Regions from separate parts of the Homo sapiens genome. Here region 1 is linked to region 2. The links come from fine-mapping of genetic effects on plasma protein levels. A gene starts in region 2. The other region holds a variant in brackets. All regions are shown on one strand. Distances are between the middles of the regions.

What was found. PIP is the posterior inclusion probability: the model's chance that the variant is causal. Protein levels are from antibody-based Olink assays in UK Biobank. Linkage for the fine-mapping came from a reference panel and not from the study's own genotypes, which makes the PIPs less certain.
Region 1: its variant is fine-mapped to the plasma level of the CXCL16 protein (UK Biobank, PIP above 0.99).

What each region holds. Positions count from the first base shown.
Region 1 is chr17:4,755,521-4,770,499 of GRCh38, forward strand. No RefSeq gene overlaps it. Among named protein-coding and RNA genes, the nearest start is that of TM4SF5, 8.9 kb to the right of the region's middle. RefSeq lists a silencer at 8,544-8,706. The variant A/G (reference allele first, on the strand shown) is at 14,208.
Region 2 is chr17:4,734,622-4,743,157 of GRCh38, forward strand. It overlaps CXCL16 (C-X-C motif chemokine ligand 16), which reads right to left and starts at 5,307. Exons shown (of 6, transcript NM_001386809.1): 1 at 4,640-5,307; 2 at 4,161-4,299; 3 at 3,787-3,869; 4 at 471-887; 5 at 1-31. The coding sequence starts at 4,718. It overlaps ZMYND15 (zinc finger MYND-type containing 15), which reads left to right and starts at 5,212. Exons shown (of 14, transcript NM_001136046.3): 1 at 5,212-5,429; 2 at 5,898-6,519; 3 at 6,961-7,195; 4 at 7,294-7,449; 5 at 7,710-7,870. The coding sequence starts at 5,928. RefSeq lists enhancers at 3,820-4,725, 4,726-5,630 and a silencer at 5,179-5,398.

The DNA.
Region 1 (14,979 bases), 24 kb after region 2:
GTCCAGGCTGGTCTTAAACTCCTGAGCTAAGGTGATCCACCCGCCTTGGCCTCCCAAAGTGCTGGGATTCCAGGCGTGAGCCACCACGCCTGGCTGGTTTACTTGTCTATTGCCTACCTCTCCCACCTGAATCCCCAGTATGTGGAACAATGCCCGGTATCAAGTGAGTACTCCATATACATCTTTCTGGTGTGAAAGAAAGAAAAGGAGAGAGGGAAGAGAGAAAGAAGTAACAAACAAGTAAGCAAAAAGCCTCAGAAAAATGGTTTTGATGGCCGGATGAGGTGGCTCACACCTGTAATCCTAGCACTTTGGGAGGCAGAGGCAGGCGGATCCCCTGAGGTCAGGAGTTCGAGACCAGCCTGACCAACATGGAGAAACCCTGTCTCCACTAAAAATATAAAATTAGGTAGGCATGGTGGTGCATGCCTGTAATCCCAGCTACTCAGGAGACTGAGGCAGGAGAATCGCTTGAATCCCTGAGGCAGAGGCTGCAGTGAGCCGAGATCGCACCATTGCACTCTAGCTTGGGCAACAAGAGAGAAACTCCGTCTCAAAAAAAAAAAAAAAAAAAGGTTTTGGTTAAAGCCATCTTAAATCATTAGCTCTTCCTGTCTGCATGTTTCAACAACCACGTTGATCGAGTAGCATCGCAGTTACAAGCACAGAACTAAGCAGAGGCCTCCTAAGTGTAAGCCCCAGCTTGACTAACTTCTGCTGTGTAGTCTTAGGCAAGTCACTTTATTTAAAAAAAAAAAAAAAAAAAGGTCGGGTGTGGTGGCCTTTTTTTGTCTCTTAAAAAAAAAAAAATACAGAGGTCTCCCTATGTTGCCCAGGCTGGTCTTGAACTCCTTAGCTCAAGGGATCCTCCCCGTCTGTGCTTCCCAAAGTGCTGGGATTACAGGTGCGAGCCACCACACCTGGCCAGGCAACTTACTTTCACTCGGAGCTACATCCACTCATTCAGCAAATACTTACTGAGTGCCTACTCAGCTGCAGGGTGCTACCCTAGGTTAGTTGTGAGGATTATATACAACAAAGTATGAGAAGCCCCTAACACCAAGCTTAGTTCATTATCAAATAATAACATGGCTGGGCGCAGTGGCTCATGCCTGTAAACCCAGCATGTTGGGAGGCTGTGGCAGGAGGATTGCTTGAGGCCAGGAGTTCAAGACCAGTCTGGGCAACATAGCGAGATGCTGTCTCTTAAAAAACAACAACAGCAACACACTCCTAAAAATCTGTTATTATTTGTGCCCCATAGTGTGACCTTGGCTCACTGCAGCCTCAACCTCCTAGGCTCAAGCAATACTCCTGCCTCAGCCTTCCGAGTAGCTGGGACTACAGGTGTGTGTCACCATGCCAGGCTAATTTAAGTAAAAATTTTTTGGAGAGACAGGGATCTCACTGCGTTGCCCAAGCTGGTCTTGAACTCCTGGCCTCAAGCAACCCTTCTGCCTTGGCCTCCCAAAATTCTGGGATTACAGGCATCAGCTACCAAGCCTCATCTCATTGTCTGTTTATAATCATCTGTACTTGCAATTTGAATATTCTCACTGATTAGAACTATTTTGGGATTTTTTAAGAGGTCGCTGTTACTTAAACATTTAGAAATTTCTGGTTTATTGCATTATGGTCTGGGTATCAGTCCAGTACAATTTCAAGTTTGGGGAATTTCATATCTCCTTCACGGCCTAATATTTGACCAAGATTTGTAAATGTTTTATTGGCATTGAAAAAGGTAGGTTCTCCATTTATGAGATACAAAGTCAAGTAAATAGCACTTGAATACATGCTCCAGGAGGATGGAGGCTCAGGATGTTCACCGATGATGTATTTATGGCTGATATCTTCCTGGTATCCAGCAAAGGGCCTGGCACATATCATTTAGTAAATATTTGTTGAATGAGAGGCTAACTAATCAATCAACTTTATCATTGAGATTCTCTGTTTCTTTATACGTTTGTATATTTTTCTTACTTTGTCGAAGAGAATTATATTACAGTTTCCCACTACTATTATATTTCTGACAGTCTCCCTCGGCATTTCTAACTATTTGGGGTTTTTTTTCTTTTCTTTTTTTTTTTTTTTTTTTTTGAGACTGAGTGCCCTTTCTCATAAAACACCAACCACTTCCTCTATGGAAATAAATTTATTCCCAGTACCTTCTTGGGTCTTGCAAATATTACAGCCAAATGCATTTTTTTTTTTCTGGCATGTCAGTGTCTGCTCACTGTAGAGGAGGGTGAACAAGTTCTGGTCTCCTGATCTCCAGGAGTCTGAGCTAGGAGAAGGAAGAAGAGAGAAATGTCAAAGGGCTATATTTGCAGGGTTTCTATGGAAAAATCTGATTTCAAACAATCTTCATCATCTGAGATGGTTTCCCTTCTAATGACTCCATCTGGTCCTCACGTCGATCTTAGTTCTCAGGAGCTGATAACTCTGGCCTTGCCTTGCTCAGAGAGCATTCAACCCCCACTCCTCCCCAGGTCACATTGCCAAACACCTTCAGTGGCAATTCATGGGTCCTCAGAAAAGCATCACTCTCATTCCTGGTCTCCCTCCCTCCACTGCTCTCCTCTACAATCCCACCTCAGGTGATCCTCCCGCCTCGGCCTCCCAAAGTGCTGGCATTATAGGCATGAGCCACCGTGCCTAGCCCGGAATCTGCTTTTAACACCATCTTCAGGAAATCTGTATGAAGTTACGGTTTGAGAAGTACTGAACTAAGCAGACAGCCAAGTAAGAGCCCCTCCTGTCCAGGTCTAAGGGTAGTTCCGATTCCCTGACCAGCAAATCTTGAGTAGCTGCCTCCCAGTAGCTGCCTCCCAGTCACTCTCTACCACACCACCCTATTTCCTTCATGTAATTTAGCATAACCTCTAATTTCTAGTTTACTGCCTGTCTCCCCAAACTATAATATAAACTACGAAGAGGTACCTCATCTGTCAAGTTTAGTGCTGTATCCACTGGGTCCACAACTAGGCACATTACACAGAGGGTACTCGATCCTGCATTTCACTGACTTAAATACTTTCAAGTGTTATACATCATGCTTTTGTTTGTTTGTTTGTTTGTTTATTTTGAGACAGAGTCTGGCTCTGTCGCCCAGGCTGGAGTGCAGTGGCATCATCTTGGCTCACTACAGCCTCTGTCTCCTAGGTTCAAGCGATCCTCCTGCCTCAGTCTCCTGAGTGGCTGGGACTATAGGCGTGCACCACCATGCCCGGCTAATTTTTGTATTTTTAGGAGAGATGACATTTCACCATGTTGGTCCGGCTGGTCTCAAACTCCTGACCTCAAGTGATCCATCTGCCTCGGCCTCCCAAAGTGCTGGGATTGCAGGTGTGAGCCACAGCACCCGGCCAAACCATGATACAATGCTTTCTTAACACTTCAATTTTTATTTTATGCTAATTGAAGTCTCTTTCAGACCATTAAAAAATCTAATTCTGGTGCGTACACAAAAACAAAAATAATATGGTTAAAATATTCCAAAAAAATCTTTAAAGTCTGACTCTTCTGAATCACTTTCTATCAGTGCCTGTGTTGCTGTCCCCTCTACTGTCGAGGGCATTGGAGAAGCGGAATTTCTTTAAAAAGTGCTCCACTACTGTCTCCGAGATTTTCTTCTAAGCTAGTGACACATTCTTGTTTTACCAAATAGTGTCAACAAAATTGATGTCTTCACTAACAAATTTTCGCTCCACTACTTTATTTCTATGCTTAATACATCATTTCCTTTTGATTTCTGTTTTAAAGCATGTTATCTTTTTGAAGATTTTTTTTCTTAATAGCATTTATTTATTTATTTATTTATTTATTTATTTAGAGACACGCTTGCTGTCACCGAGGCTGGAGTGCAGTGGTGTTATCTCGGCTCACTGCAACCTCCGCCTCCTGGGTTCAAGCAATTCTCCTGCCTCAACCTCCGGAGTAACTGGGATTACAGGTGTACGTCACCATGCCTGGCTAATTTTTGTATTTGTAGTAGAGATGAGGTTTCGCCATGTTGTGCAGCCTGGTCTCAAACTCCTGACCTCAAGTGATCTGCCCGCCCCGGCCTCCCAAAGTGCTGGGATTACAGGCATGAGCCACCGCACCCGGCTGAATAGCCTTTATTTTTTAAAAGCAGTTTTAGGTTCACAGCAAAATTGAGCAGAAAGTACAGAGTTTTCTTTTCTTCTTCTTCTTTTTTTTTTTTTTTTTTTTTTTTTGTAGTTTTAGTAGAGATGGGGTTTCACCATGTTGCCCAGGCTGGCCTTGAACTCCTGACCTGAAGTGATCCGCCCGCCTCGGCCTCTCAAAGTGCTGGGATTACAGGCATGAGCCACTGTGCCTAGCCGAAAGTATAGTGTTTTCTTATACTCCTACCCCCACACATGCACAGCCTCCCCCACTATCAACATCCGGCACCAGAGTGATAGATTTGTTCCAATCAGTGAACTACATTGACACGTCATTATCAGCCAAAGTCCATCGCATAGTGTACATTAGGATTCGCTCTTGGTGTTGCACGTTCCATGGGTTTAGACAAATATATAATGACGCACCAGTATATATATAGTATCATACAAAGAAGTTTCACTGCCCTAAAATCCTCTGTGCTCTGTTTATTCCTCCTTCCCCTCCCTACCAACCCCTGGCTGCCACTGACCTTTTCACTGTCTTCAGAGTTCTGTTTTTTTCCAGAAAGTCATATACTTGTAGCCTTTTACTTTTTTTTTTTTTTCTCCCTTAAGATGGAGTTTCTTTCGCTCTTGTTGCCCAGGCTGGAGTGCAATGGCAAGATCTTGGCTCACCACAACCTCCGCCTCCCAGGTTCAAGTGATTCTCCTGCCCCAGCCTCCCAAGTATCTGGGATTACAGGCATGCACCACCATGCCCAGCTAATTTTGTATTTTTAGTAGAGTCTGGGTTTCTCCATGTTGAGGCTGGTCTCGAACTCCTGACCTCAGGTGATCCACCACCCTCAGCCTCCCAAAGTGCTGGGATTACAGGCGTGAGCCACCACGCCCGGCGGTTTTGGTTTATTATTATTATTATTATTTATTTATTTTTTTTAATAGAGACAGGGTTTCACCATGTTGTCCAGGCTAGTGTTGAACTCTTGGGCTCAAGGGATCTACCCACCTCAGCCTCCTAAAGTGCTGGGATTACAGGTGTGAGCCACCACACCTGGCCTTTTGTTTGTTTTTGTTAGAGACAGGGTCTTGCTCTGTCACCCAGGTTGGAGTGCAGTGGCACAATCACAGCTCACTGTAACTTGCAACTCCTGCCCTCAAGCAATCCTCCCGCTTCACCCTCCCAAAGCACTAGGATTACAGGCATGAGCCACCATGCCCAGCCCTACTGGAGCTTTGTAGTAAGTCTTGATGCTGGGTCGTGTCAATCTTCCAACTTTGCTCTCTTTCAATATTGTGTTGGCTATTCTGGGTCTTTCGCCCCTCCAGACAAACTTTAGAATCAGTTTGTAAATATCCATGAAATGGTTTTCTGGCATTTTGATTGGGATTGTGTTGAAGATACAGATCAATTTGGAAAGAACTGACATCTTGACAATGTTGAGTGTTCCTATATATGAACATGGACTCTCTCCATTTATTTATATCTTCTTCGATGTCTTTCATCAGAGTTTTGTAGTTTTCTTCATGTAGATCTTATACGTATTTTGTTAGATTTATATGTAAGTATTTAATTTGGGACAGTGCTAATGTAATTGGTACTGTGTGTTATTTGAAGACATTATAAACAGCAATTCAACTCAAGAAGTGTAGTACCAGTAGGGTTCACAACTCAGCTGAGGTGATAACAATACGAACAGCTACGACTGGGTTCTCACAAGTGTAGGCAAAACCTACCATGTTGTATGACACCATGGATTGTACAATATATCCTAATTTTGGGAAAAATAAAATGTGCTAAAACACGTGACTTAGAATTGATTGGCCAGGTGCAGTGGCTCACACCTGTAATCCCAGCACTTTGGGAGGCCGAGGCGGGCAGATCACTGGAGGCCAGAAGTTCGAGACCAGCCTGGCCAACATGGTGAAACCCCATCTCTACTAAAAATACAAAAAATTAGCCAGGCGTGGTGACACATGGCTGTAGTCCCAACTACTCAGGAGGCTGAGGTTTTAGTGAGCCAAGATCACACCACTGCTGTACTATAGCCTGCGTGACAGAGTAAGATTCTGTATCAAAAAAAAAATTTGAAATATGCTAAATATTTAACAAATAGGCCAAGCAGGTGGCTCACACCTGTAATCACAACACTTTGGGAGACCGAGGTGGGTGTATCACCTGAGGTCAGGAGTTCGAGACCAGCCTGACCAACACGATGAAACCCCATCTCTACTAAAAATACAAAAAATTAGCTGGGCTTGGTGATGCGCGCCTGTAATCCCAGCTACTTGGGAGGCTGAGGCAGGAGAATCACTTGAATTCGGGAGGTGGAGGTTGCAGTGAGCCCAGATTGCACCACTGCACTCCAGCCTGGGAGTGAGACTCTGTCTCAAAAAAAAAAAAAGAAAAGAAAAGAAATAAACGTCACTGACTCAATTTCACAGTATTCTCATAACCAATTTAAAGTCTAGAAACCACTGGAAAATTTTCCATTTTTCCCAGTTTATATCCTAGGAGAAAGCAAATCTAATTGGCCTGGACACTCAGCTTATGGTACAGTTTACAAATTTCTGGTAACTTCCACTGCTTTAAACGAAGACTGAAATTACCAATGTCTCAAATAGAGTAGAAGTTTATTTCTTGCTCACAAAATAGTAACGAGGCTGCCGGGCCCGGTGCTTCACGCCTGTAATCCCAGCACTTTTTGGGAGGCCGAGGGGAGTGGGTCATTTGAGGTCAGGAGTTCGAGACCAGCCTGGCCAACATGGTGAAACCCCGTCTCTACTAAAAATACACAAATTAGCCAGGTGTGGTGGTGCCCACCTGCAATCCCAGCTAGTTGGGAGGCTGAGGCAGGAGAATTGCTTGAACCCAGGAGGCAGAGATTGCAGTGAGCCAAGGTCGCACCACTGCACTCCAGCCTGGGCAACAGAGCGAGACTCCGTCTCACAAAATAAATAAATAAATAAATAGTAAGGAGGCAGGTGGCCCACAGCGGCACTCCTGCTCTTCTAGGTTGTTCGGGAGCCCAGAATCCTGATATTGTTGTTCCACCATCTCTAAGGGTTGTCCTCACCAAAGAGTCCAAACGGTTCAACTCCTGGCCTACATTCCAGCCAGCAGGATGAGGAAAGGGAAGCTCATTCCTTAAAGTCTACCACCAAAGTTGATTGTTGCAGCCATTAAAAAAGAACAAATTCATGTCCTTTGCAGCAATATGGATACAGCTGGAGGCCATTATTCTAAGCCAATTAACACACGAACTGAAAACCAAATATTGCATGTTCTCACTTACAAGTGGGAGCTAAGCACTGGGTGCACATGGACATAAGGATGTAAACAATTGACACTGGGGCCTCCAGAGGGGAAGGGAGAGAGTGGGGAAAGGGTTGAAAAAACTACTGGGTTCTGGCCGGGTGCGGTGGCTCATGCCTGTAATCCCAGCACTTTGGGAGGCTGAGGCGGGTGGATCACCTGAGGTCAGGAGTTTGAGACCAGCCTAGTCAACATGGTGAAACGCCATCTCTACTAAAAATACCAAAATTAGTCAGATGTGGTGGCATGCGCCTGTAATCTCAGCTACTTGGGAGGCTGAGGCAGGAGAATCGCTTGAACCCAGGAGGCCGAGGTTGCAGTGAGCCGAGATCGTGCCACTGCACTCCAGCCTGGGTGACAAAGTGAGACGCTGTCTCAAAAAAACAAAAAACCAAAAAAACTACTGGGTCCTATGCTCAGTACCTGGGTGACAGGATTAATCATGTTCCTAAACCTCAACATCACACAATATACCCTTATGACAAACCTGCACATGTACCCCCAAATCTAAAATAAAAGCTGAAATTATAAATAAATTGAATACTTTGTTGTGGGGATCTCATAAAACTTACAGAAAACATCTGCATTATGCCTTAAAACCAACATTGCAGTAAGGTAAGATCAACTAGCAGCATTCTCACAAAAAGGAAACAAAGTTGATCAAATCATTTACACTCCTTCCCATAAGCCATAACTATGTGACAACGCATGGCCACAGCTACAAAAGAAGTTAGAAAAAATAGGGTTTTTTTGTTGTTGTTGTTGTTTTGACACGGGGTCTCGCTCTGTCGCCCAGGCTAGAGTGCATGCAGTGGCATGATCTCAGCTCATTGCAACCTCCGCCTCCCAGGTTCAAGCGATTCTCCTGCCTCAGCCTCCGGAGTAGCTGGGATTACAGGCATGTGCCACTACGCCCGGCTAATTTTGTATTTTTATAGAGATGGGGTTTCTCCATATTGGTCAGGCTGGCCTCAAACTCCCAACCTCAGGTGATCCACCTGCCTTGGCCTCCCAAAGTGCTGGGATTACAGACGTGAGACACCACGCCTGGCTAATTTTTGTATTTTTAGTAGAGATGAGGTTTCACCATGTTGGCCAGGCTGGTCTCAAACTCCTGACCTCAGGTGATCCACCCGCCTCAGCCTCCCGAAGTGCTGGGATTACAGGCGTGAGCCACCGGGCTTGGCCGAAAATATAGTCTCTAGCTTAGCAGCCATGTGCCTTTAGCAGCAGACTACAAAGTCTGCTACTATAATAAAAGCAGAAGACTGGGACTAACTCACTATCTCTGTCACATACTAGGTCAAGCATGTGCTACTCAGCTATGGGCAGTGAGTACGGAGCCACAGAGTTTAGACAGATTCCCTGGAGAGGATATTCGCTGGATGCCTCCCCATCATTCATTCTGTCTTTCCTCCTTCCTAATACTGCCCTTAATTTCCCAGCCTGGTGGCTTAGACAGAATTGACAACACCCCCTGTGCTGGAATGCCTCCATGTGAAGAAGGACATGTTTGCTTCCCCTTCCGCCATGATTGTAAGTTTCCTAAGGCCTCCCCAGCCATGCTAAACTGTGAGTCAATTAAACCTCTTTCCTCTATAAAGTACCAGTCTCGGGTATGTCTTTATTAGCAGCGTGAGAACAGACTCATACAGCATGTTCTACCCTCTGGCCACAGTGATCCGTGTAAGGGACAGACATAGAACCCAGTCTGCACCAAGGAGAAATTTTCTGGGGTAAATGGGAAAGAAACTTCCTCTCTACTCAGGGAAAGCTATGCGAGGAGATTCTCTTCCTCCTGGTGGTAGGGTGTAAAGACATAAGGTCTGAACTGCTGCAGCTAATACTACTGTCAGGAGGAAGATCCCACTTAAGGAGGAAGTCAAAGCCAAAAAAAGGAACAGCAGAGAGAATGGCAGAGAAACAAGAACACTGATGACATCCTGAACTTCTGGACCAAACTGCACCTGCAGTTAGTCCTACTTCAGTCCTACTGGATGTTTTGATTGCTTGAACCAATAAATTCCCTTTTTGTTGCAATAGAGTTGGGTTTTCTGTTACCTGGTATAGTTCCTTACAATGGACCCAGAGTATGGCAAGCAATAATGACATATTTAATAGTATTAATATCATTTTTAGAATTTACATTATACAGCTGCCCTTTAAAAGAATTTTTTTTTTTTTTTTTTTTTTTGAGACAGAGTTTTGCTCTTGCCCAGGCTGGAGTGCAATGGCGCGATCTTGGCTCACTGCAATCTCCACCTCCCAGGTTCAAGCGATTCTCCTGCCTCAGCCTTCCCAAGTAGCTGGGATTACAGGCATGCGCTACCAAGTCCAGCTAATTTTGTATTTTTAGTAGAGATGGGGTTTCTCCATGTGGGTCCGGCTGGTCTCAAACTCCCGACCTCAGGTGAGCCGCCTACCTCGGCCTCCCAAAGTGCTGGGATTACAGGCGTGAGCCACCACGCCCGGCCACTTCAAAAGAAATTTTTACGGGGCTAGGTGCAGTGGCTCACGCCTGTAATCCCAACACTTTGGGAAGCCTATGTGTGCAGATTTCTTGAGCCCAGGAGTTCAAGACCACTTGGGCAACAAAATGAAACCCCATTTCTACAAAAAATACAAAATGATGGCTGGGCTCGGTGGCTCACACTTGTAATCCCAGCACTTTCGGAGGCCGAAGTGGGCGGATCACCTGAGGTCGGGAGTTTGAGACCAGCCTGACCAACATGGAGAAACCCTGTCTCTACTAAAAATACAAAATTAGCCGGGCGTGGTGGCACATGCCTGTAATCCTAGCTACTAGGGAGGCTGAGGCAGGAGAATCGCTTGAACCTGGGAGGCAGAAGTTGCAGTAAGCTGAGATTGCGCCATTGCACTCCAGCCTGGGCAACAAGAGTGAAACTCTGTCTCAAAAAAAATATATATATATATATTTACATATATACACACAAAAAGATTAGACAAGCATGGTGGGTGGTGAACATCTGTAGTCCCAGTTACTTGGCAGGCTGAGGCAGGACGATCACTTGAGCCCAGGAGATAGAGTTTGCAGTGAGCCAAGATCATGCCACTGCACACCAGTCTGGACAACAGAGTGAGACACTGTCTTTAAAAAAAAATGAGACTGGGCACAATGGCTCTGGCCGGGTTGTGGTGGCTCATACCTGTAATCCCAGCACTTTGGGAGGCCAAGACAGGTGGATCACTTGAGGTCAGGAGTTCAAGACCACCCTCCAACATGGTGAAACTTAGTCTCTACTAAAAATATAAAAATTAGCCAGGCCTGGTGGCCCATGCTTGTAATCCCAGCTACTTGGGGGGCTAAGGCAGGAGAATCGCTTGAACTCAGAAGGCTGAGGTTGCAGAGTCAAGATGACGCCACTGCACTCCAGCCTGCATGACAGAGCAAGACTCTGACTCAAAACAAAAGAGAAGAAAAATATTTTTTTCCAAAATGTGCATCCAGTTTTGTAACCAGATATATGAAATTTATTTAGACTTACGTCAAGACTTCCCCATTTTGGGGTTTTTATTTTACTTCATCTCTTGGTGAGTCAACACAATTTCTCTAAAAAAAAGGAGCCAAAGTGTTATTTTGAAATCCAAACATTCTCAGAAATGCAATTGTGTTGCCCTTAACATACAAAATGCAACTTAGACATGTATATGATAGTTCTACCTTTTTTGGTGGACACAGCTGCCTTACTCCTTTGTCCTCTGACATTCAGTATTTCAGAGAAGACTCTGGCCACACCAACTATTGTTTCTTTCTAAGTAGCCTTTTTAAATTCTGCCTAGATGTATCCTTTAATTCAGATATTTTGTCAGGATGAATCTATGGTCAGCTGACTTTTAATATTTTACCTGCCGTGCAGTATAACTTTCAACCCACTGACCTGAGTGGATCTATCTGCGCTCAGTGACGTCTTCTCCTAGTGCAGATGTTTTAACTGTGGTGTCACTTCCACCAGTTCTATTCTTGTTCTTAGGAGAAGCCAGTTTCCTGAATTTTTTTTTTTTTTTTTTTGAGCCAGAGTCTCACTCTGTCACCCAGGCTGAAGCGCAATGGCGTGATCTTGGCTCACTGCAATCTCCACCTCCCGGGTTCAAGCGATTCTCCTGCCTAAACCTCCTGAGTAGCGGGGATTACAGGCACCCGCCACCATGCCCAGCTAATTTTTGTATTTTTAGTAGAGACGGGGTTTCCCCATGTTGGTCAGGCTGGTCTCGAATTCCTGACCTCAGGTGATCTGCCCGCCTCGGCCTCCCAAAGTGCTGGGATTACAAGCGTGACCCACTGAGCCTGGACCTTTTTTTTTTTTTTTTTTTTGAGATGGAGTCTTGCTCTGTTGCCCATACTGGGGTGCAATGGTGCGATCTCGGCTCACTGCAACCCCCACCTCCCGGGTTCAAGCGATTCTCCTGCCTCAGCCTCCTGAGTAGCTGGGATTACAGGTGCCTGCCATCACACTTGTCTAATTTTTGTATTTTTTGTGAAGATGGGGTTTCGCCATGTTGGCCAGGCTGGTCTCAAACTCCTGACCTCAGGTGATTCACCGAGCTTGGCCTCCCAAAGTGCTGGGATTACAGGCGTGAGCCACCGCGCCCGGCCAGCCTTTTCTTTCTTAAGTTATTCTGTTCCTAGTTCCAGGAGAATTCTAGTGATGTCATCAAAAATCTTCCTGGAAATCTCTTCCAAATCCTATAGTAAATGTTCCTCCAGAGGATTCTGTTTCTTTCAGTCTTCAGGTTGATTTGCCCTTCCCTGGTTTTGAGAAAATTTTTCAGAATCCCTATAATGTTTTGTTAACATTATTAACATTATTTCATTCATCCAGAATTGTATAAAAATAATGTAATGAATGCCTGTGGACCACCCCACCCACACAACTATTTTTTTTCTCTTTATTCATCCTCAAAACAGACACCATTTGGCTGGCCGCAGTGGCTCACACCTGTAATCCCAGCATTTTGGGAGACCGAGGTGGGTGGATCACCTGAGATCAGGAGTTCGAGAGCAGCCTGGCCAACATGGAGAAACCCTGTCTTCATCTCCACAAAAAATACAAAAATGAGCCAAGCGTGGTGGCGGGCACCTGTAATCCCAACTACTTGAGTCTCCTGAACCCGGGAGGCGGAGGTGGCGGTGAGCCGAGATCACGCCACTGCACTGCAGCCTGGGCAATAAGAGTGAAACTCTGTTTAAAAAAAAATAAAAAAGAGGCACCATCTCTCAGAATCAGCTTGAGCAACTTGTAGACAAATAGGTGGCCAGCTCTTGGCCCTGCTCTCTGTCCATCAGATCAATGGCTGAATCCCCTCTTCAGGTCCACGGTTGGAAGGGCCACTATTCGGGATATGACAGTTGCTCTGGTAGTTCAACATTAGTGCTGGTGACAACCTCTCATCGGCCACCTCCTGAGGAACCAGAGTTTTCCAGTGCCTGTGCTTCTCCCTCTGGCGCTGTTTCAGAGTAACTATTCTCCATACACTTCTCTTGCTGTGACTTCTGCTTATTTCTGGTGTCAGTTGCCTCTGGCTTTTGATTGCTTCTTTCTTGCATACAACTCTCAGTTTGAAGCCACCCCACTCTCTGATGACTGTCTCAGCTTGTCTCACAGACACATTTCCCAATCATGAAGATCCAGTCGGTGGATTGGTCATTATCCAGTCAGTGTACCTCTGTTGGATGGAGTTCTCACCTCGAGAGACCTCACAGGTCGCTGGCTACATGTCTGCCTTTGGGTCAGCTACTTGTTCCTCAATCAACCAGCCCTGGCCTAGATAAGGGGGTCTGTGTTAGGAACTTGTTACTGGGCAACAAACCATCCCCCTCGACGAAGTCTTAGTGTCAAATAAATATAAGCATTTATTTCACTGATACACACATAGGAGTTGGCTGGGGGTCAGGTGATCTAGGGTGGGATCCAATGTGACCCTTTTCCTTGTATCTTTTTTTTTTTTTTCTAGATGGAGTCTTCCTCTGTCACCCAGGCTGGAGTCCAGTGGTGCAATCTCGGCTCACTGCAACCTCCATCTCCCGGGTTCAAGCAATTCTCCTGCCTCAGCCTCCCGACTAGCTGGGATTACAGGTGCCTGCCACCACACCCAGCTAATTTTTTTTGTATTTTTAGTAGAGACAGGGTTTCACCACGGTAGCCAGGATGGTCTCGATCTCCTGACCTCATGATCTGCCCACCTTGTCCTCCCAAAGTGCTGGGATTACAGGCGTGAGCTACTGCGCCCGGCCAAAAGAAATTTTTTAAATTAGTTGAGTGTGGTGGTGTGGGCCTGTAATCCTGGCTACTAAGGAAGCTGAAGTGGGAAGACAGCTTGAGCTAGGAGGTCATAGCTGCAGCGAGCCATGATTATCTTACCATGGCACTCTAGTCTGAGTGACAGAGACCCTGTCTCAAAAAAAAAAAAAAAAGGATAATGTAAAATCTTTAAAGAAAAGGGACAGAGGCTGGGCGCAGTGGTTCATGCCTGTAATCCCAGCGTTTTCGGAGGCCGAGGCGGGGATCATCTGAGGTCGGGAGTTCGAGACTAGCCTGGCCAACATGGAGAAACCCCGTCTCTACTAAAAATACAAAATTAGCTGGGCGTGGTGTCGCATGCCTATAATCCCAGCTACTCGGGAGGCTGAGGCAGGAGAATTGCTTGAACTTGGGAGGTGGAGGTTGCAGTGAGCCATGATCGCACCACTGCACTCCAGCCTGGGCAACAAGAGCAAAACTCTGTCTCAAAAAACAAAAAAGAAGAGG[A/G]ACAGAAAACATCAGAAGCAATATGGAAATGTTGTTTAAAGCATTAAACATGCCAACAGAAGCAAAACCAAATGTATCAGTCATCATAATTACCTATGAGTCAGAGACAAATAGTTGGGGAGGTTCAAAGTATTTTCTTTTTCAGGCATCCTCTGATTCAAGAGGTAAATTCTCCATGTATTTTTCTCAATCCAGTTCCTCTGTCTTATAAATAGCAGAGATTCTGGCTTTTCTCCATTTTCCACATTTCTGTAGTGGTCTGAGTGGGCCGCAAGGAGGGGCTGCATCAGGGGCCACTGGCTGGTGACACTTTCCAGGTGACAGCCTCATTGCATACCCTCTGAAGCCCTGCAGCCCTTCCTGCTACCCTCATCTCTTCATGGCACTCCCACATCCTACTTGAGCTAGGGCTCATTCTGTGGGGGCCTTCACTCTCCTGTTTGCTTCTGAGACCCAGGAGGCAGAGGTTGCAGTGAGCCGAGATCACACCACTAAACTCCAGCCTGGGTGACAGAGCAAGACTCCATCTCAAAAAAAAAACAACAAAAAACCATTAGCCAGGTGTGGTGGCACACACCTATAGTCCTAGCTACTCGGGAGGCTGAGGTGGGAGGATCACTTGAGCCCAGGTGGTCAGGGCTGCAGGGAGCCATGATCCACTCCACACCAGCCTGGGCAACAAAGGGAGACCCTGGTCTCAAAAACATTTTTTTAATTAAAAAAAAAAGAAGTCGACTGGGTGGCTTGGCTCATGCTTGTAATCCCAGCACTT
Region 2 (8,536 bases):
GGTGCCACAGGTATATAATGAACCGGCAGATCTGGAAAGGATAAAGAAATTGAGAGATGAGCTCTGAGATCAAGGACAGTGTTTGGGGGATGATAGCTTGAACTAGGGAATCAGATGAAGACATCAACACTATGACCTGGCCCACAGTAGGTGCTCAGTGAAAATTTGTGAATTGAATGACTGGCCCTCACCTCCCTCCACAGCTTCATCTCCCACTAGCTTGCTCTAGCCATCTTCTCCATGATGTTGCTCCAAGCACTAGTCCTTGTGCCTGTGGTGGCTTCCTTCCCTCTCCACTGTCTACAGTCCCCGACTGACTGTCCTCAGAGGGCCCAGAGTCAACCTTGTGCAGACAACCTTGATACTTGTGTGCCAAGGCCAGGTTTCCAGCCACCTGAGAGCCACTGGGTCAGGATGCCTGTCAGGAAGGCTCTGGGTCCCTGGGGGGAGGGTTCAAAGGTCCAGTTTACCTGGAGAGGACTGCGGTGACTGCCCCCTCCTCCTCTTGCACAGCACATAGGAAAGGGCTGCGGTGAGGATGAAGATGATGGCCAGGAGGCACAGGACTGGCACTGTGGCTGATGTCCTGGCTGTGGGACCAGCATTTTTTTCCGGCTGCTTCTGGTTCTCCCCAGCCTCAGGCCCAGCTGCCAGACTGTGGCCCGCAGTGTGAATGGTGGTTTCATTGGGACGAGTGAGCTCTTTGTCCGAGGACAGTGATCCTACTGGGAGGGTGGGGCGCTGAGTGGACTGCAAGGTGGACAGGAGCATCTGGGCAGGGGTGTGGATATCTGAAGATGCCCCCTCTGAGGCCTGAGAAATTGGGGGGCTGGTAGGAAGTAAATGCTTCTGGTGGGCCACAATCCCCGAGTAAGCATGTCCACATTCTGGAAAGGAAAGAAATGAGGAATCAGGACTATCAGGAGACAAGGTGAAAAAGCAGATAGAGGTGTAGGGGAGAAAAAGTAATATCTTTTCCTCACCCATCGCAAGGGTCAAGGCTGATACCCCTATAAATAAAAAACATTAACAAGAGAAAAGCCTAACATTTATTTAATCACAGTTTTACATGACATAGGAACCTTCAGAAACAAAGACCCGAGAAAAGTGCATTTTTATGCTTAGGCTTGCTGTGAAGAATGGACAGCTGTATAGACGTATGATTGGATTGGCCGGGCGCGGTGGTTCACGCCTGTAATCCCAGCACTTTGGGAGGCTGAGGTGGGTGGATCACCTGAGGTCGGGAGTTCGAGACCAGTCTGACCAACATGGAGAAACCCAGTCTCTACTAAAAATACAAAATTAGCCAGGCATGGTGTCATGTGCCTGTAATCCCAGCTACATGGGAGGCTGAGGCAGAATCGCCTGAACCCAGGAGGTGGAGGTTGCAGTGAGCCAAGATTGCACAACTGCATTCCAGCCTGGGCAACAAGAGCGAAACTCCATCTCAAAAAAAAAAAAGAAGTATGATTGGACAAAAAGGGTATGATCTAATGGCAATAAATGGGGGGTGGGGGACCAGCAAGGCCTGTCCAGATTCTTCTTGGCCTCCAAGTATAGGGCAGGACCCATCTGAAATGAGAGCCTATGACCTACTTCCACGTGAAGTTAGAGAATTCCTTTATGGCCAGCTCTCACAGAAAAACAGAGCAGAGTGAGCTACTTACTTCTGCTGTTTTCGTAATTACCAAGGTGCCATGTTTTGGAGTGTCATGTTCTGAGCTCCAACAGAGGGAAGAGTGAGTCAGGGAGGTTATCACGCTGAAGGCCAGAAGAGGAAGGCAGATGACAGACGGAAAAGGTAGGGGACAAGGAAGTGAGCGAACCACGAGACAAGTGGGTGTCATGAACTGGGAAATCAGAAGACCAGGGTTGGATTCCAAGCTCTGCTGTAAAGTAGCTGTGTAACCTCAAGTAGCTGTGTAACCTCACCCCTTGTCCCTAACCTCTCCGGAAGTGATATCTTCCAGCTGTAAAATGAGGATAATTGTAGTACCAAGGGCCAGGGTTCCTGGGAGGATGAAAGGAAATCATAGAGGTCTAGGCAGACTTAAAGGCAGTATGGATGACACAGATCCTACAAAACTTTAGCTAGGACATGGAAGAACCTTTTGTATTTTAATGGTTGTATATTTATTTTAAGAGAAAAATATAACCAATGCATCAAACTTGTGACTTCACAGATATTATTGCTTAGGATAATTTACTATTTAAGTTTTCTTTCTTTTTTTTTGTTGCCCAGGCTGGAGTGCAATGGCCTGATCTCGGCTCACTGCAACCTCCGCCTCCAGGTTCAAGTGATTCTCCTGCCTCAACCTCCTGAGTAGCTGGAATTACAGGCACATGCCACCATGCCTGGCTAATTTTGTATTTTTAGTAGAGATGGGGTTTTACCATGTTGGTCAGGCTGGTCTCAAACTCCTGACCTCAGGTGATCCACCGGCCTCAACCTCCCAAAGAGCTAGGATTACAGGAGTGAGCCACCGTCCTGGCCTCTACTTAAGTTTTCAAAACTAGTTTGTGCACACTTAAAAGTAATTCATTTCATTGTATGTAAATTTGAACTCAAAAGAAAAAAAAGCATTAAAATATTGAACTCTACTTAATATACATGCTGAAATGTCTTGGGATGAAGTGCAATGATGTCCACAATCTGCCTTGAAATGCATCAAGAGGCCGGGCACTGCGGTTCACACCTGTAATCCCAGCACTTTGGGAGGCTGAGGCAGGTGGATCACCTGAGGTCAGGAGTTTGAGACCAGCCTGACCAACACGGTGAAACCCCATCTCTACTAAAAAAATACAAAAATTAGCTGGGCATGGTGGCGGGCACCTGCAATCCCAGCTACTCGGAAGGCTGTGGCAGGAGAATTGCTTGAACCTGGGAGGCGGAGGCTGCAGTGAGCTGAGGGCACCATTGCACTCCAGCCTGGGCGACAGAGCAAGACTCCATTAAAAAAAAAAAAAAAAAAAAAAAAGAAATGCATCAAGAAATAAGGTGATGGATGATGGATAGAAGAATGAATAGATGGATACTTAATAAAGCAAATATCGTGTAATTGCTGTAAAATTGATAGTGTAAAATATATGTTTATGTAAATATGTAAAATATACATATATAAATAAAATTGTAGAATCTAGGTGGAGGCACTGGATATTCAGTGTGCCATTCTTTCAACTTTTGTATATGTGTAAATTTTCATAATAAAATATTGGAAAAGAAAAATAGGCCAGGTGTGGTGGCTCACGCCTGTAATCCTAGCACTTTTGGAGGCCGAGGCGGGTGGATCACAAGGCCAGGAGTTCGAGACCAGCCTGGCCAACATGGTGAAACCCTGTCTCTACTAAAAATACAAAAATTAGCCAGGCTTGGTGGTGCGCGCCTGTAATCCCAGCTACTCAGGAGGCTGAGGCAGGAGAATCTCTTGAACCTGGGAGGCAGAGGTTGCAGTGAGCCAAGATCGTGCCACTGCACTCCAGCCTGGGTGACAGAGTGAGACTCCATCTCAAAAAAATAAAATAAAATAGTACTTTGATTTCAAGAAAAATATTAATAAGTAGACAATAGCACACGTGGTAGAATGAATTGGCAAAACTCATGAAGGTGATGGTGAATGATCACCCCGTTTGGCAAACAGGGACTCGAGTCTAAGTACTTTGGACAGGATCAGAAGAAGGTTCTAGGAATGTGCGGCCCCAGGGGAAAAGGCTCAGGTAAAGAAAACTGTCAGGTGGAAGCTGCTAAGCCCTGGAGGCAGAGCCTGAAGAGCAGTGGAAAAGTCTCACCTTTGAGATCAAGACAGCTCATCAATTCCTGAACCCATGGGTCCTTGTTGCCCCCACACACGCTCCAGGAAAGGAGCTGGAACCTGCGGAGGAGAGACCTGGGCTTAGCTGCGGCGCCTTCTTTCCTTCCCCGGCTCCTTCCTCATTCCAGAGGCGTGAAGTTGCCACCAAGAAAGAGCCCTTTCTCCTGGGACTGGGAAACTCCCCAGTAGGTGAGACGGAGTCATGAAGTTTCGGGGAATGAGAGCAAACGGAACCCGGAGATGGGGCTCGGTGAGCCGGGAAGGAGTTCAGGCTGGACCAGAGAGGGTCCTGGAGGCACCTGCAAGGAGGGGCCGCCCAGGCGCTGCCCTCGCAGAGGCAGGTAAAATTACCTCGTGTAGTATAGACACCGATGGTAAGCTCTCAGGTGTTTCCGGAGACGATTCATGAACTGAACCGATGGCGGGGAGTCGGAAGAAATTCTTTTACCACAATAACAACTTCCAGTGACGCTGCCCTCGTTGCCATTGCCTGCGCGGGACGGAGGTGGTCGGCACCCATTCCCAGGCCCAGGGTCCCCACTCCGCTGTTCCCTGGCATCCAATCCACAGCCCCATGACAGCCTCTCGGTGGACCCAGGGTCAGAGCGCCAGGCTCAACCCACACATCATCACGCCCCCGACAACATCCATAATCCCGCCCGGAGCCAGGCGTCCCCGGGCCTCTGTCCCCAACCCCAGGCGGCTGGCTGGCTTTCCTCTTGTCCCCGCTGCCTTCATCCACTCAACTCCGTGGGCCTCGTGTCCCCTCCCCAACTCACCCCCTTCCCGTGACAGGGGAATCTGGGTCCCCTGCCCCGCCCCCGGCTAACCTGGCTGAGTCAGGTACACCAGCAGGAGCAGAAGCAGGAGCAGGAGCACGCGGGACCCGGGCCGCAAGTCCCGTCCCATCTCGGGGCTCCGCGGACTCTGCGGGGATGGAGCCACCTCGCTCTGACTCCCAGACATGCTCCGGCGCGTGACGTCCAGCTGGTGTCTCAATGGCTTTCGCCGGGGACCGGAGGAGACGGCGGCCGGAGAGGAGGCGCGAGCCAGCTGCACCCCCCGGCCCTGCTGTGCCCCGACCGTGCGCTCAGTACTCGGCCCGCGCCATGCCAGCCTCTGGACGCAGGGAAAGCCGAGGAGGTGGAGCTCCCGCGCCCTGCGCCCCCGCACTGGGCCCGGCTCCGTCGAGGGAAGGCCAGGAATCTTGGAAGAAACCGAAAGAAAACTCCGGCGGCGGGCGAGGAGGGGCGGGAGGACGACGGCCCGAGGAGCCGATTCGGTTCGGTTCAGGAGGCCGCCCGCCTGGCCCGTCCGCCGACCTGTGAGGCGGCTGCACTGCCGGACCGGCCCTCCTCCTCCGAGGCACTTTCACTTCCCCGATCCGGGCGCCGCGGGACCCAGCCGCGCTGCATGAGCCTCCCGGGCGGCCCGGTGGAGAGAGTCGCCGCCAGCCCCGGCCGCGCGCACCTGCGGGGCAGCCACCCGCGGACGCACCGAGCCCGGGGGGCGTGGCCGCCCGCTGAGCCGGCGAGGGCTCGGGCAGCCCTGACGTCACAACCGCACCCGCGCACCCTCCACCGCGAGGTATTTACCTTCGAAAAGTGGTGGCGGCTGCAGGTACCGGAGGAGTGGGGCGGCCGGGAGGGGCTAGGTCTACCGGGGCTGCCCGCCACGCAGATCCGAGCCCAGGGAACCCCCTCGCTCCCACTCCCATACCCCACAGACGCATCCAAAATGCTTCCCTCCCCACCAAACCGTTCCCGATAGGATTAGCCCTCTCTCCTCTCTAGCCTTAATTTAAACTCTGCTTTTGAGGGTGTGAACTCTCCAATTTTAAGCCCCAAATACCATCTCATCCCTGAGTAGTCTTCTCCAACCCTGGTCACCCACTTTCAAGTCCAGCCCCCATTTTCCTCCCTAAACTCCCATCCTCAGCCCTGAAAAATCCTCTTCTCCGCTCCTAGCATATCCACGGATCCAACCCTAAGTGACTCTCAAACCTACCCTCTCCCTCAATTTGTGACCCAGCCCCAAACTCCATCATTGCTCTCCTGTCCCTCACCATATATCCCTTCTTTTGCTCAGTCTGGGCCGGGGCCCTGTGCCGCTGAAGACATGGAGTTTGTGTCTGGATACCGGGATGAGTTCCTTGATTTCACTGCCCTTCTCTTCGGCTGGTTCCGAAAGTTTGTGGCAGAGCGTGGAGCTGTAGGGACTAGCCTTGAGGGCCGCTGCCGGCAGCTGGAGGCCCAGATCAGAAGGCTACCCCAGGACCCTGCCCTTTGGGTGCTCCATGTCCTGCCCAACCATAGTGTGGGCATCAGCCTGGGGCAAGGGGCAGAACCAGGTCCTGGACCAGGCCTGGGGACTGCCTGGCTCCTGGGAGACAACCCTCCACTCCACCTGCGAGACCTGAGCCCCTACATCAGCTTTGTCAGCCTAGAGGATGGGGAGGAAGGGGAGGAGGAAGAGGAGGAAGATGAAGAAGAAGAGAAGAGAGAGGACGGGGGTGCAGGCAGCACAGAGAAGGTGGAACCAGAGGAGGACCGGGAGCTAGCCCCTACCAGCAGGGAGTCCCCCCAGGAAACAAACCCTCCAGGAGAGTCAGAGGAGGCTGCCCGGGAGGCAGGAGGTGGCAAGGATGGCTGCCGAGAGGACAGGGTGGAGAACGAAACAAGACCCCAGAAGAGGAAGGGACAGAGGAGTGGTAAGAACCCAGGGCTGGCCCTGCCCTACCCCTTGCCCAGCCATCCTCCCTTCGGAAGCCCTCCCCTGCCACTAGTTCTGAGTGCTGGCCTTCAGGCCAATCTGGCCTGAAAAGGTGTTTTTATTGACCCACAGTGGGGTTTTTTTTTTTAATTTAATGTTTAAACATTGCAAGAAAAAAAGTATCCAGAAGTCTGGATTTACACATTCCCAAGAAAAATCTCAAGCTCTGACAGTGGGCCTACATTTCTGCATGGCAGCGCATTCTGGTCCTCTGTAGCAGCTGTCCCCTTTAGAAGGAGCGTGCCCTCTCTACCCAGAGCCCTTTACTCAGTGAGGTTACTTGCCTAGCCCCGTAGGTATTTGAGTTTGGTACTCCTGACCCTGACCACATTTGTCTCTCGCTGCCCCCTACCACCTCAACTTTTCCCTCTTTCCCCAGAGGCTGCCCCCCTGCACGTTTCCTGTCTCTTACTTGTGACGGATGAGCATGGCACCATCTTGGGCATTGATCTGCTAGTGGATGGAGCCCAGGGAACCGCAAGCTGGGGCTCAGGGACCAAGGACCTGGCTCCTTGGGCCTATGCTCTCCTCTGTCACAGCATGGCCTGTCCCATGGGCTCTGGGGATCCCCGAAAGCCCCGACAGCTTACTGTGGGAGATGCCCGGCTGCATCGGTATAGAAATCTGGTATCTGAGGCTGGGGAGGACTCGGGCCCTGGATTCCCAAGCACCTCCTCCAGCCTGATGCCATCTCCCCCCCAACTGCATTTAGAGAGCTGGAGAGCTTGGTCCCAAGGCTAGGTGTGAAGTTAGCCAAAACCCCAATGCGGACATGGGGTCCCCGGCCAGGCTTCACCTTTGCTTCCCTTCGTGCTCGAACCTGCCATGTGTGTCACAGGCACAGCTTTGAAGCGAAGCTGACACCTTGGTGAGCAGCCCCAAAGCTGGGGGAGAGGAAGACCCCAATAGGCAAATAGAAGGAAGGCAGGGTGGTGGGGGGCGCCTAGCAGACAGAAGGAGAGGCAGGGACATGAGAAGATGCAGAGGAAACAATACAGACTGTTACAGGCGGTTAGAGGGTGTAAGACAAACAGACCGAGTGACATATGGGCAGCTGCTGGGCAGTTGAACAGCAGACAGGACCTACAGAGGTTAACACTAGGTGCCCACCACCCGCTGTGTCCCCAGCCCCCAGTGTAGTGCTGTCTTGTATTGTGGAGAGGCTTGTCTCCGGGCTGACTGGCAGCGGTGCCCAGATGATGTGAGTCACCGATTTTGGTGCCCAAGGCTTGCAGCCTTCATGGAGCGGGCAGGAGAACTGGCAACCCTGCCTTTTACCTACACCGCAGGTACCATAAGGAGGTCAGAATGGTTGGGGGAAACTGGGACCAGGTCTTTGAGACTGGGAATTAGATGTCTGGGAACAGGGTCCTGCAGTTGAAGGCTGAGTGTCTGGGGCTAGAGCCTAGATCCCTGGAACAAGGGCAGGGGCTGGGTGTTTGGGGCTGGAGACAGGGTCTCTGAAGCCGAGGCCTGAGTGTCTGGGTCCCTGAGAGCGTGCAGGGATTGGGGGACAGGGATTCAAACACTTACTTGCTTCCCAGCTCCACCACTAACTGCAGTGTGACCTTAAACAAACCACTTTACTTCTTGAAGCTTCCGTGTCCTCATGAGGGATACGGAGAAGGCCCATGGAATTGTTACAAGGATTATCTTGGCTTGGTGCCTGGTACGCTGGAGGCACTCAGAAATGGTAGTTCCCGGCCTGACTGGAACCAGACTTAGAACCAGGGTCCTCGCGGGAGGCTAGGGAGAGTTCAAGGCTGGGGTTCTAGGCCGGGCAATGGTTCACACCCGTAATCCCAGCACTTTGGGAGGCCAACTTGAGCCCAGGAATTTGAGATCAGCCTGGGCAACATAGACTCTGTCTCTACAAAAAATAGAAAAAATTAGTCAGGCATGGTGCACTCGCTTGTGGTCACAATTCTCGGGAGACTGAGGTGGGAGAATCGTTT